Regions from separate parts of the Homo sapiens genome. Here region 2 is linked to region 1. A link means that fine-mapping ties the variant in region 1 to the expression of a gene that starts in the linked region. Tissue or cell type: whole blood. Region 1 holds a variant in brackets; the other region holds the start of a gene. All regions are shown on one strand. Distances are between the middles of the regions.

What was found. PIP is the estimated chance that this variant, and not a neighbour inherited with it, causes the effect.
Region 2: LARP1 starts here. The variant in region 1 is fine-mapped to the expression of LARP1 in whole blood (INTERVAL, PIP 0.99).

What each region holds. Positions count from the first base shown.
Region 1 is chr5:154,709,116-154,715,100 of GRCh38, forward strand. It overlaps a transcript of LARP1 not described here. Among named protein-coding and RNA genes, the nearest start is that of MIR1303, 26 kb to the left of the region's middle. RefSeq lists an enhancer at 3,273-3,819. The variant A/G (reference allele first, on the strand shown) is at 3,009.
Region 2 is chr5:154,752,030-154,758,014 of GRCh38, forward strand. It overlaps LARP1 (La ribonucleoprotein 1, translational regulator), which reads left to right and starts at 3,348. Exons shown (of 19, transcript NM_033551.3): 1 at 3,348-4,164. The coding sequence starts at 3,729. LOC112267936 (a long non-coding RNA gene) reads right to left here and starts at 2,991. Exons shown (of 2, transcript XR_002956231.2): 1 at 1,750-2,991; 2 at 1-548. RefSeq lists silencers at 2,726-2,875, 3,126-3,465, 3,506-3,915, 3,956-4,035, 4,316-4,425 and an enhancer at 5,346-5,405.

The DNA of each region.
Region 1 (5,985 bases):
TGTCACCTTTTGAACTGCAGCCTCTCCCAAAAGTTCATGACAAATGTCCTTAGCAGCAGGCAGAATCAACTCTTCACCAATAGTAAAGGCTTCTTAGCTTTAGCAATGCAGTTAGCCACTAAGAATGATGCTCTCAGTGCAGACACATTTGATGAAGTGGTGGCCTTCAATAATTGCTTCTGCTCTTCATGTTCACATTCTTTTCTTTTGAAAACTCCAAAAGCTTGTCTTTTGATGCAGGGTGCTTGGCCTCCATGTGGTGAAGCAGTTTTGAAGGTTTCATGGCTTCATTGGATAGCCAGTCGCCACATATTATACAAAGCAGGCTTGGAGAATGTGAATCACGTGTTGCAATGAACCCATAATTTAAGTAGGACTCTTGGTATTTTCTTTTAAGTGCAGCTTTCTTTTTGTGGCAGTCTGAGTCTTCTGCTCTGTCATCATTGGTTCTTTCCGGCTTTTCAAAGAAGCTCTCCAGTGAGATTTTTTTTTTTTTTTTTTTTTTTTTTTACTCATTTTGGCTAGAGTTAGCTTGTGGGCTCACCAAAACTGTGACCAAGGCGAGTGTGCAGTGTGGGAAAGAGGCGCAGATGGAAGCAGTAAATAAAATAATGAGCGGGCCACGTATGGACTAAAATAAGTGTCAGATGCTGACCTAAAGCCTGCCACCAGATGCAGCTTAATTGTCACTTGCTACTCACTGATAGGGTTTTGATATGAGTCTGCAAGCAACTGATTTATTATGGTCTCTGTGCAATCAAACCTCTCTGCTAATGTTAATCTGTATTTGCAGCCGCTCCCCAGTGCTAGCATCGTCACCTCAATTCTACCCCAGATCATCAGGCATTAGGTTCTCATAAGGAGTGCACAACCTAGATCCCTGCCATATGCAGTTCACAATAGGGTTCAGGCTTCTATGAGAATCTAATGCTGCCGTTGATCTGACAGGAGGTGGAGCTCAGGGGGTAATGCAAGTGATGGGGAGCCGCTGTAAATACAGACAAGGCTTTGGTGGCTGCCCGCCGCTCACCTCCTGCTGTGGGGCCCAGTTTCTAACAGGCCACAGACTGGTACCAGTCCATGGCCTGCGAGTTGGGGACCTCTGCACTAAAGGATTGGTCATTGTTTCTAGACCTGAAAACAGTAAACAGAGCTAGGGAATTCACTTAGTTTATTTGTTTTCAGATCGGCTAAATAAAAAATTCATACTGAGAGGCCAGGCACAGTGGCTTATGCCTGTAATCCCAGTACTTTGGAAGGCCGAGGTGGGAGGATTGATTAAGCCCAGGAGTTGAAAACCAGCTTGGTCAATATAGTGAGACCCTATCTGTTAAAAAAAAAATTTAGGCCAGACACGGTGGCTCACACCTGTAATCCCAGCACTTTGGGAGGCCAATGTGGGCAGATCATGAGGTCAGGAGTTCGAGACCAGCCTGACCGACATGGTGAAACCCTGTCTCTACTAAAAATTCAAAAAATTAGCCGGGCATGGTGGCGTGCACCTATAATCCCAGCTACTCAGGAGGCTGAGGCAGGAGAATCGCTTGAACTCAGGAGGTGGAAGTTGCAGTGAGCCAAGATCGCGGCACAGCACTCCAGCCTGGGCGACAGAGTGAGACTCCATCTCAAAAAAAAAAAAAAAAAAAAAATCATACTGAAACCTCTAATACAAACACAGGATTATGCATTTTTTACTTAACCCCTTTCGTCTTTCACTTGTATTTTTCTCCCACACCAAAAGTCCTGGTTCTCAGCAATACCAACAAACTCACTTGCTTTATTACATACTGTATATCCAACAGTCTCAGAATAATACCAAAGCTACTACTAACAATGTGAGACTGAAAACAGGCAGCCCTTTTTAAAAATCAGAGTAAAAAATTCTGAAAATGAAAGTGGAAAGGAACCCCACAGGAAGGGTCTGTGCTGACCCCATGTGACAGTGTGGCCGTTTGCATTACTGCTGGAATTTTGAAGACTACTACATATTCCGTCAGTGTCAGGATTTTGTTCTTCAGTGTGGTACTTTTTTTTTTTTTTTTTTAAGATGGAGTCTCACTCTGTCGCCTGGGTTGGAGTGCAGTGGTGTGATCTTGGCTCACTGCAACCTCCAGCTCCCGGGTTCAAGCGATTCTCCTGCCTCAGCCTCCTGAGTAGCTGGGATTACAGGCATGCGCCACCACACCTGGCTTATTTTTGTATTTTTAGTAGAGACGGGGTTTCACTATGTTGGTCAGGCTGTTCTTGAACTCCTGACCTCGTGATCCGCCCACCTCAGCCTCCCAAAGTGTTGGGATTACAGGCGTGAGCCACCGCACCCGGTAGTGTGGTACACTCTTAAAATCATAGTTCCTGCTGTCTGGGAGTTTACATATGTCTACAGAGTGGAAGAAGCATGAGATTATAGCAGTGTAGGCTACCAGAATGATTGTTGGGTTGGTAACCCAAGTATGCTGGTCACCCCAAAGCTTCAGTTTCCTTGTCTTCTACATGAGGATAAAGAAAGGAAGGAGGAATTTACAAGAGGGAATCTTGGGCAAGTTGAATCATCTTTCTGAATTCTTGAATTACCTTCCAGGAATAAATAAGGAATAGATAAAATTCCTTATCTATTAAGAGGGGGTACAGGGATTGGACTATATTGTAGTGACAGCAGCTTTCTTTCTGTTCTCCAAACGTACCTGCTTCGGGGACCTTATACTTGGGGTTGGTTCTCTGTGCATTGAACACTCTTGCTCCAGCTCTTCCAATGTCTCGTTCCTTGTCATCATTCATGTCTCAGCTTTAATATCACCTCCCTAGGGAGGGCCTCCTGACCACATCATTGAAAATATCCATCCTCCATTACTTTATCATATCAACCTATTTCATTTTTGTGGAACTATTACTTATCTAATTGGCTTGTTTATATCTAGATCCCCTCTCTCCAGAATGTAAACTCAATAAAAGTAAGGTTCTTGACTTTCTTGTTCATTGATATGTCCCTAGGAACTAAAACAGAGCCTGAC[A/G]CATAATAGCTGCTGAATAATAATGCCTTTTGAATAATGAATGCCTGATAAATGACTGGATGAGCTATATAATCTCCAAAGTCTCTTTCAGCTTTAAACCCAAGATTATATACTCATTATAGTGAGTAGAGGATCACTAGCATGACTATACCATGCTACAGATGTGGAAACTGAGGCAGTGAGTGACTTGCCAAAGGCTTTGCAAACAGGAAAGTGGTGTGGTCCAACAGAACCGTATGGGAAGTCAAAAGCAGGAGACTCGGGTTTGGATCCTCACACCATCCCTCTCTGTCGACCTTCCTTGCAAGGGCTGTGTGAACTGGACAAGCCACTTCACCCCTCCAAGGACTCAGTTGTTCCACTGAAAAGAGAAGATGTACTAATAACTCTGCCCCAGGGTCACTGTGAGATCATGTAGTCTGAACCGCACTAAGCACTTTGCAGAGTGTTTTGCTCTTCCTTTAGCCCCAGCTTGTTTTCCAGGGTGGAGAGTGGAGGTGAGGAAGGAAGCCCAGGACCAGGGCTGTGGAGGAGGGGAGACTCAGCGGGTTGCCACCATTTGTTTACTCACCTGAGTCTCTCTGCCTCTAGCCTAGCTGTGCTCCCCGCTAAGGTAAAGAGGTGGGGTAGCCTTGCTCGGCCAATGAGCTGCCGTCGCTCTCTTAAAGGCACCCAGCGTCTGGAAGGAAAACTAGCCTGGCAACCTGGAGAGCTCCCGGGCCAGAGCCAGGAGGCAGCTGTGCGATCTGGATGTACCTAAACCCTCCAGGGCCACATAGTGACCCCAGGCCCTGGTCACTCCATGCTTTGGAGGGTGCTTTTGTCAAAGAGGCCTCCTTTCCCTCACCCAGAGCTGGATTTCCAAGAGGCTCCCATACCTAGCTGCCCTGGCAGACTCCCAGGGAGGAAAAACAGCGTGGCCTTGGCAGCTGCCCCGAGGAAGGAGCCCACAGGTGACAGGGAGAAGCCATTGCCATTCCCTGTCCTGGCCCCCTTCAGCAACCCTGGTGAGTCCTAGCACTCTGCGTTTCTTGAACCTCAGGACAGCAGGGTGTGGTAGGAAGATCCTTCTCCCTAGGGGCAGAAACCTTGGGTGCTGGTTCCAGCCCTGCTGTGTGACCCTGAGCGAGTCACTCCAGCTCTCTGAACCTCACATTCCCCATCTGGGAAAATGAGGAGCTCAAATTCCACTCTCAGCTTTCCTCTTCTATTGTTTTCCCTTGTCACACCCCTTGTTCTGAAAGATTTAAGTCTGTCAGCTGCACCTGTTACATAATAATTTGTTAATTGGTTTTCCTCTTCTATGTGAATTGTGGCCCTGTAATAGCCAATCAGTGTTTTTTGGTTAGCAGACACAAACCACTAAATTGATGCAGGTTTAGCCAAAAGCAGTGTAGTATTTTATTCTGTCTGTGAGATCTTATCTAGAGTCGATATTTGATTTTCATTTGACCTTTTGAAATATGAGAAATAGAGCATTTGTGAGTAATTTCCAGGGAATGGGGTCCCCAGGTGGGGAACTCCTAGATCTAGTTTGCATGGGGTTTATAAGGACACCAGCAAAATCCTGCCTTCACGCCCAAGCTGAGCTTTGGTCTCTGCAGTGCTGCCTCACACACAGGGTTCATTCTTGAAAGTGAAAGCTTTGGACTTAAAAATTTCCTATGTGGAGAGACTGCTCCCAGGAGTCCCCACAGTGAGTTTACCCCACCTCTAGCTGGCTGAGGCTAGGGAAGCCTGGTTGGGGGAGCTGAGGTCTCCCTCAGCCCTCTGTTAGGGTGTGGCCAGGAGAGTGATGGGAACAGGTAGGTATGAACACAGGGCCTGGAGGCCAGGAATATATGGTAGATACCGCTTGTGCTGAAAATCAGGAGCTAGGCCTGCAGTTCTGGTTCTGCACTGACTAGCTCTGTGACCTCAGGCAAATTGTTTACCTCTTTGAACTCAGTTTTCCCAGCTGCAAAATGGGGATTGTAATCTGGGCAATGCTTGCCTACCAGGATTGTTCTTATGACCAAACAAAGTCTGTTCCATGGAAGCTTAGATTCCACAGATTTTAAGATAAATTCAGATTTAAAAATACATTTTGGGATTGATGAGGTAAGGTAATGAATGTTTTGTAAAATGCGGCCTCTGTAGTAATTATTTTCTCCAATCACTGTGTGATAATAATTAATGTGATAAAAGAATTACTGATTATGATGGAATCGTGGCTGCTTGTTTAAATCCTTTTACTTTAAAAAAATACCATTTACTGGGACTTTTTGAAATGTACAATCATATAAACAAAAAGAAAGGGGAAATAGCTCACTGAGTCATGGTATTTTCTAACGACTCGTGGGATGGGAACCCAGTCCTGGAATGTGGCCCCATTGGAAGCAGCAGGATAATACAATGGTTAGAACAGGCATGTTGGAGTAGAGGATCTTGGGCTCAAATATATACTGTAAGACCTACTGATGACCCTGGGTGTAAGTCACTTTTCTTTTCAAAGCCCCTTCTGTGCAGTCACTTGAGCTTCAGCCACCCTGTTCTCTCCTTTCCTGCAGCTCCCTGCTGAGTAAATAAATCTCAGAGAATGTTGGTTTCAAGGGTTGTGGCAGCACCCTCTCTCGGGGTAGAGCCTATGGTAGAAGGAGTGGAGTGAAAGTGAAAGCCAAAACAGTTTCTAGGAATAGGGAACTCAGGCAGGTATTTGAGTAACAATGTGTGTGAGCGTTGTGTGCGTATACGCATGTGTGCATGTGCACAGGAGCTAATGAAATTAAAAATGAAGCCGGGTGCGGTGGCTCACGCCTATAATCCTAGCACTTTGGGAGGCTGAGGCAGGCAAATCATGAGGTCAGGAGTTTGAGACCAGCTTGGCCAACATGGTGAAACTCCGTCTCTACTAAAAATACAAAAAAATTAGCTGGGCGGAGTGGTGGGCACCTGTAATCCCAGCTACTCAGGAGGCTGAGGCAGGAGAATCGCTTGA
Region 2 (5,985 bases), 43 kb after region 1:
TAACTCCTAGGTTCAAGTGATCCTCCTGCTTTGGCCTTTCAAAGTGTTAGGATTACAGGTGTGAGTCACTATGCCCAGCCCCAGTTTCATTATTTTAATGTAGAAAAAACTACTGGATTTAGGATAAAGAGATTCAGGTATGAGACCTAGCTCTGTCTGGCTCTGCTGTGTGACTTTGGATAAGGAACTTTACTTTTCTTTTTCTTCCTTTTTCTTTTCTTTTCTTTTTTTGAGATGGAGTTTTGCTCTGTCACCTAGGATGGAGTGCAGTGGGGTGATCTCGGCTTACTGCAACCTCCGCCACCTGGGTTCAAGCAATTTTCATGCCTCAGCCTCCTGAGTAGCTTGGATTACAGGTGTGCGCCACCATGCCCAGCTAATTTTTGTATTTTTAGTACAGACAGTGTTTCGCCATGTTGGCCAGGCTGGTCTTGAACTCATGACCTCAGGTGATCTGCCTGCCTCAGCCTCCCAAAGTGCCGGGATTACAGGTTTGAGCCACTGTGCCCGGCCTTGGACTTCACTTTTCTGAACTTTGGTTTCTTCATCTGCAAAACAAGGAGAATGAGTAATCATTATGATTCCTTTTTCCAGTTCTAACAGCTTCTAAGCCTAAGATGTTGTCTCGGCCGGGCATGGTGGCTAACACTTGTAATCCCAGCACTTTGGGAAGCTGAGGTGGGCAGATCACCTGAGGTCAGGAGTTTGAGACTAGCCTGGCCATTATGGTGAAACCCCATCACTACTAAAAATACAAAAATTAGCTGGGCATGGTGGCGGGCGCCTGTAATTCCAGCTACTCAGGAGGCTGAGGCAGAAGAATTGCTTGAACCCGGGAGGCGGAGGTTGCAGTGAGCTGAGATCCCACCACTGCACTCCAGCCTGGGCGACAGAGTAAGAGTCAAAAAAAAAAAGATGTTGTTTCACACAGGTCTCTTACTTTCTCTGGCCCTAGTTTGTCTCTCTCTGGGGCAGAGCAGGCCCAGGGTAGGCAGATCTCAGTACCCCTCCACCCTCTACACAGCAGGGCCTGGCCATGCTTGTTCAACCCTGTTTCTGACTGCTGAGTAGCATGAACGAGTTTCTTGTCCACACAGTGCCCTCGTACCCTCACGAGTTCTCAGGGGTCAGGGGAGGGTACTTCTCTACCTCCAATTACAAAAAGAACAACTAACAATAATAATTATGTCCCCTATTAACAAAGTTTAGAGAGGGTCTAGAGTGAATAATCTCTTCAGGGATTACTTATCAATAAATTTGTAAAAATAAAGCTGTGCATGGTGGCACGTGCCAGTGGTCCTAGCTACTTCGAAGGCTGAGGTAGGAGGATGGCTTGAGCCCAGGAGTTTGAAGCTGCAGTGAGCCATGATCACAATGACTGCACTCCAGCCTGGGTGACAGACCTCATCTCTTCAAATAAATAAATAGTGCATTTCAGTGGCAATGTGCAATAATTTACCTTCTGATTAAGAGTACATGTAATGAACTTAGTAGATTCCTGGTTTAATTCATTGAGTAACATTACCTTCCTTGGTAGCTCTTTTGACGTACTGGCTTGTCTATAAAATTTACACAGCACCTTGACTAACATTGTCTCACTTGACCTTCACATGAGCTCAGAGGGTGGAAGCAAGTCAGGCATTATTTACCCCCATTTTTCCACCAGGAGAGGGGTCCAGGGAAGTGCGGCTAGCTGGCCAAGGCTTGGAGGCTGAATAACCCAAGAGTTGGAAGTAGACATGGCATTACCTGGCTATCCCTACCAGTACTTCTCCCCCATACTGGTTACAACAATCCTACAGCTCAGCTTTGCTGGCTGGGGCAGTTCCAAGAGGCTTTTCATTCAGTCTTCTCCTAGATCCAGCAGGTCGTGTGCTCTAATTCTTGTTTTGGAGATGGCCAACATTCCAGGCTGTTATGTTATGTGAGCACGTGGGATCACAGCCAGTCAGAAGCCAGGACTTCTCCAAGTGAAGTCATAAGCACCAAAGGGATCTTGCTAGACACGCAGATTTCTGGGTCCAGTCCCAGACCGAGCCTGATTCCTAATACTTTGGCATCTGCGTTCAAAGAAGTCTTCCCTTATCACCCAAACAAAAGTAGCCCATCTAGTCTAACTGATTACCACAGTTTAACTATTGTCTTCATAGATACTAGACAATAATTTATTACTTGTTTATTGTCTCTTTCCCCACCTTAGAATAAATTCCATGAGGATAGGGACTTTGTTAGCCTAGTTTATACCAAACCCGTTTCCTAGAACCCTGCAAGGCCCCCACAGTACGAGGTCAGTAAGTATTGAATCGAATGTACACTGAAGTTTGAAACTGCTGTCATACACTGCTCCTTCATTTTACAATAGAGAAACTGAGGCCCACGAAGCTGGAAGTCACTGCTGCAGAGATGGTAAGGGGGCAGGGCCAGGATAAAATCTCAGATCTCAGAAGTCCCAATCCAGGGACGGTTCAACTCCGCCCAAAGCAATTCTTTAGAAAAAAAACGACATCCACTTGAAAGAAAAGACATTTCCTGCCCATAAATACAAGGTTTCGCGGCGGGGAGAAGGGCCTGGCCTGGGTGAGGGCTTTAGTAATTCCGTTCCCACTTCCTAGGCGCCGGCTGCCCGCAAGGGCTAAAGACTCGCTTTCCAGGCCCGGAGTTGAACCCATCTCCGGGTAGTGTCGAGGCCAGGCCCAGCGGCGGCGAGGCGCGGAGCACAACCCACTGAGGTGCGGACGGCTCACCCAACCAAGGTCACCCGGGCGGGGACCGAAGGGGCCAGGCCCGCCGGGCACAGGGGAGGGGGCGGCGTTGGCGCGTCCTCGGGGCGGATGAGGGTCCTCCCTTCGGCCTCCTAGAAGTCAGGAATGACACTAATGGCTCCTTCCCCTGAATCTGACACCCAGCCTAAAGAGCACGAGCAGGCCCGGCAGGCCGCGTGGCCGGGTCCCATGTGCTCCACCTGAGGCCGCTCTCACGCGCTGGCCCTTTAAGATACCTCCCCTCCTCGCCCAGCCTTCTCTCCTATCCCCGTCAGCGCCCCCACCGACAACTCCCGAATTGCATCAGGCACGTGCTCGCCCCCGTCCGGTCTGAGCGTCCCTACCCCCAGCCCGGGAGGTGCTCTGAGGAATCGGAGACGAGGGGCGGGGCGAGGGGCAGGACCGCGTAGCCGTGCGCGCGCCGTCCCGCCGCCTCCTGCCCGCCCGTCGCCCAGGGCCCGGCCAGCGGCGCGCCCCCGCTGCGCCGTCCCCTCCCCTCGCCCGCCGCGTCGTGAGGCGCGCGCCCGCCCGCCGCCTGCCGCGGATCGCGTGGTCTGCTTGGCTCGCCGCGCCTCTCCCCCGTCCGTCCATATTGCTGCAGCCCCCGAGCCGGGAAGCCCGGGCCGCCCCGGGGGCGGGGGGGAGGGAGGGACGGGACTAGAAGCCTGCCGGGCTCGGGGTGGGGGCGTCTTGCGAGGAACGGGCGGGGGGGGACGCACGCCTAGGAGGCCTGGACTGCAGAGTGGGGGGCCTTCCTCCCCCCCCGCCCCGCTAGTGGGCCTCGGATTTACGGCGGCTGCATCTAACTGGGAGGGGGCCGCACCTCGCGTGAACCCCGACCCTTCTCTGCAGGGACTGGGGCCCAGCGCCCCGGAGGAAGGCGTCGCGGGCGCTCTGCTAGCCAAGTTCGAGGCGGGGGAGGCAGCCTCGGGCGCGCCCGGCTTCTCCGGGGGGGCGGGCGCGCAGATGGCCACTCAGGTGGAGCCGCTGCTGCCTGGGGGCGCCACGCTCTTGCAGGCCGAAGAGCACGGGGGGCTGGTGAGGAAGAAGCCGCCGCCGGCGCCCGAGGGCAAGGGCGAGCCCGGGCCAAACGACGTCCGCGGGGGGGAGCCGGACGGCAGCGCTCGGAGACCCCGGCCGCCCTGCGCCAAGCCGCACAAGGAGGGCACCGGGCAGCAGGAGCGCGAGAGCCCGCGGCCGCTGCAGCTGCCCGGCGCCGAAGGCCCGGCCATCAGCGACGGGGAGGAGGGCGGCGGCGAGCCAGGCGCTGGCGGAGGAGCTGCCGGAGCCGCGGGCGCGGGGCGCCGGGACTTCGTGGAAGCCCCCCCGCCCAAGGTGAACCCGTGGACTAAGAACGCATTGCCGCCGGTCCTGACCACCGTGAACGGACAGTCCCCCCCAGGTGGGTCTCCCTCCTTGCCCTCCTGGGTCCGGGGGCCTCTTCCGGGGACATGGGAGTCCCCTCCCCCAGCACCTCCAGGGCCCCGGGGTCTGCTACCGGTCATGGTGACTCGGGACTTTTTAAAATTGCCTCCTGGTTGATCCTGGTCGCCGCGCCCTCCCCCCCACCGTACACTCAGGGACCTGCCCCTGCCCGAGGGCCCGGCCTCCGGGAGGCTACGGCCACCGCCTGGGCCGCAGCGGTTAGTGGGCAACGGTGTGGTTCGGGCCTACCTCGTCGGCAGAGGGTGGGCGCTGGTTTCAGTGAAACGATCCCCACCGCATGCTGGTGTAAGAGACGGTTTCTGGTTTGAACCTTCCTCTGGAAGCCCCTCTTCCCACCCCGCCCGGCGCTCCCCGTTTTGGTAGCGTTGCGAGCGTCCCCATGTTGTAAATGTTTAATGAGCATATGTCACGGGCAACCCAGTGCCCGGCGCGGAGTACATGCTGGCCGCACGGATGCGGGGATTAAAAGTTAACAAGTTTTGTTCTCGGGGAGATGAAATTGGGCTTTAGAATCGCCATTTGGAGACGGGTTGAGGGGTCAGTTGTGGGGAGAAGAAACCCATCGTGTCATCGAATTCGGTGGTTTCCCTCCCCGATCCCGGGCACCTTCCGCCTTAAGAAGGAGCCCGATGGCGAGTGTGCTGGGGGAGCCAGTTAGGAGGTTGGCGGAAAATGTGAGGCGGGTGAGGGGCCTGCGGCGACTTGAGGGGCGTGTGGCGGCGGGGGAGGGAGTGGCCGGCCTGGGCGGGCGGGTGACAGTTGGGCGCCATGCGCCGCGCCGGCGGCCCGCGGGCCGCTCGGCCTCGGCGTTCGGTGCGGGCCGCGGCGCTGGGGGTGGCAGGAGGGTGCGGGCCCGCGGCGCGGCCCGAGTGTGCGTGTGCGCGGCGCGGGTGTGTGCGCGTCCCCCCTTCCCAGCATTCCTCTGCAGCCGGGACAACGTGGTGCCTCCCCGCGCGGGGAGCGGCATGTGACTGCCGACCGGCGCTCCGCGAGTCCTCCCTCTCCCTCCTCCGCGTTTTGGTCCTTTTGGACCGTGCCCCTTTCCGGGGGGAGGTAAGGGGTGCAGGAAATCCCAGCAGAGCCGTGTCAGCGTGGGGGGAGAGGCGGTGCAGAATATGGAGTCTGCTCTTGCATTGCCTTTGCCGAGAATAGATCGTCGGCTTGGGTGGGGGGGGCGCGCCCACTCTCCTCTCTCGGCCGGCGTATAGGGCGGGTCTCCATTCTTTGGTTTTGGGTCCGTTTGTGGTGGGTCGGTTTTAAAATTGTCTTGCAGTTGGAATGATGGCCTCTGGTCGTAGCCCTGGTGCTTTTAAAAAACTCACCTGCCGTAGCTGGTTGAGGCTAACTGGTTTAAACCATCAAAAATAAAGGGGGAGCTTAATGTCTTCACCGTCAAAGGAGTAGAAGCACTGCTAGTCCTAGGGAAGCCAGAATAGCCAGTCCTGAAAACAGCATGTTGCAATTTTTATTTCTTTTCAGGTTGCTTCATTTGGAGGAGGGGACATTTGGGGTTTACTAACAGTCCTTCATACTGTGTTCTCTTCCTTCCCCCCTGCTCCCCTTCCCCCCTGCTCCCCTTCCCCCCTGCTCCCCTTCCCCCCTGCTCCCCTTCCCCCCTGCTCCCCTTCCCCCCTCCTCCCCTTCCCCCTTCCTCCCCTTCCCCCCTCCTCCCCTTCCCCCCTTTCCCTTCCAGAGCCCTTTTATGCAAAAGACAGTGCTGAAACCTCCGTTTTCTTTCAGTCCCTCCTATCCACCCACAGAGTGAAGGAAAACAACT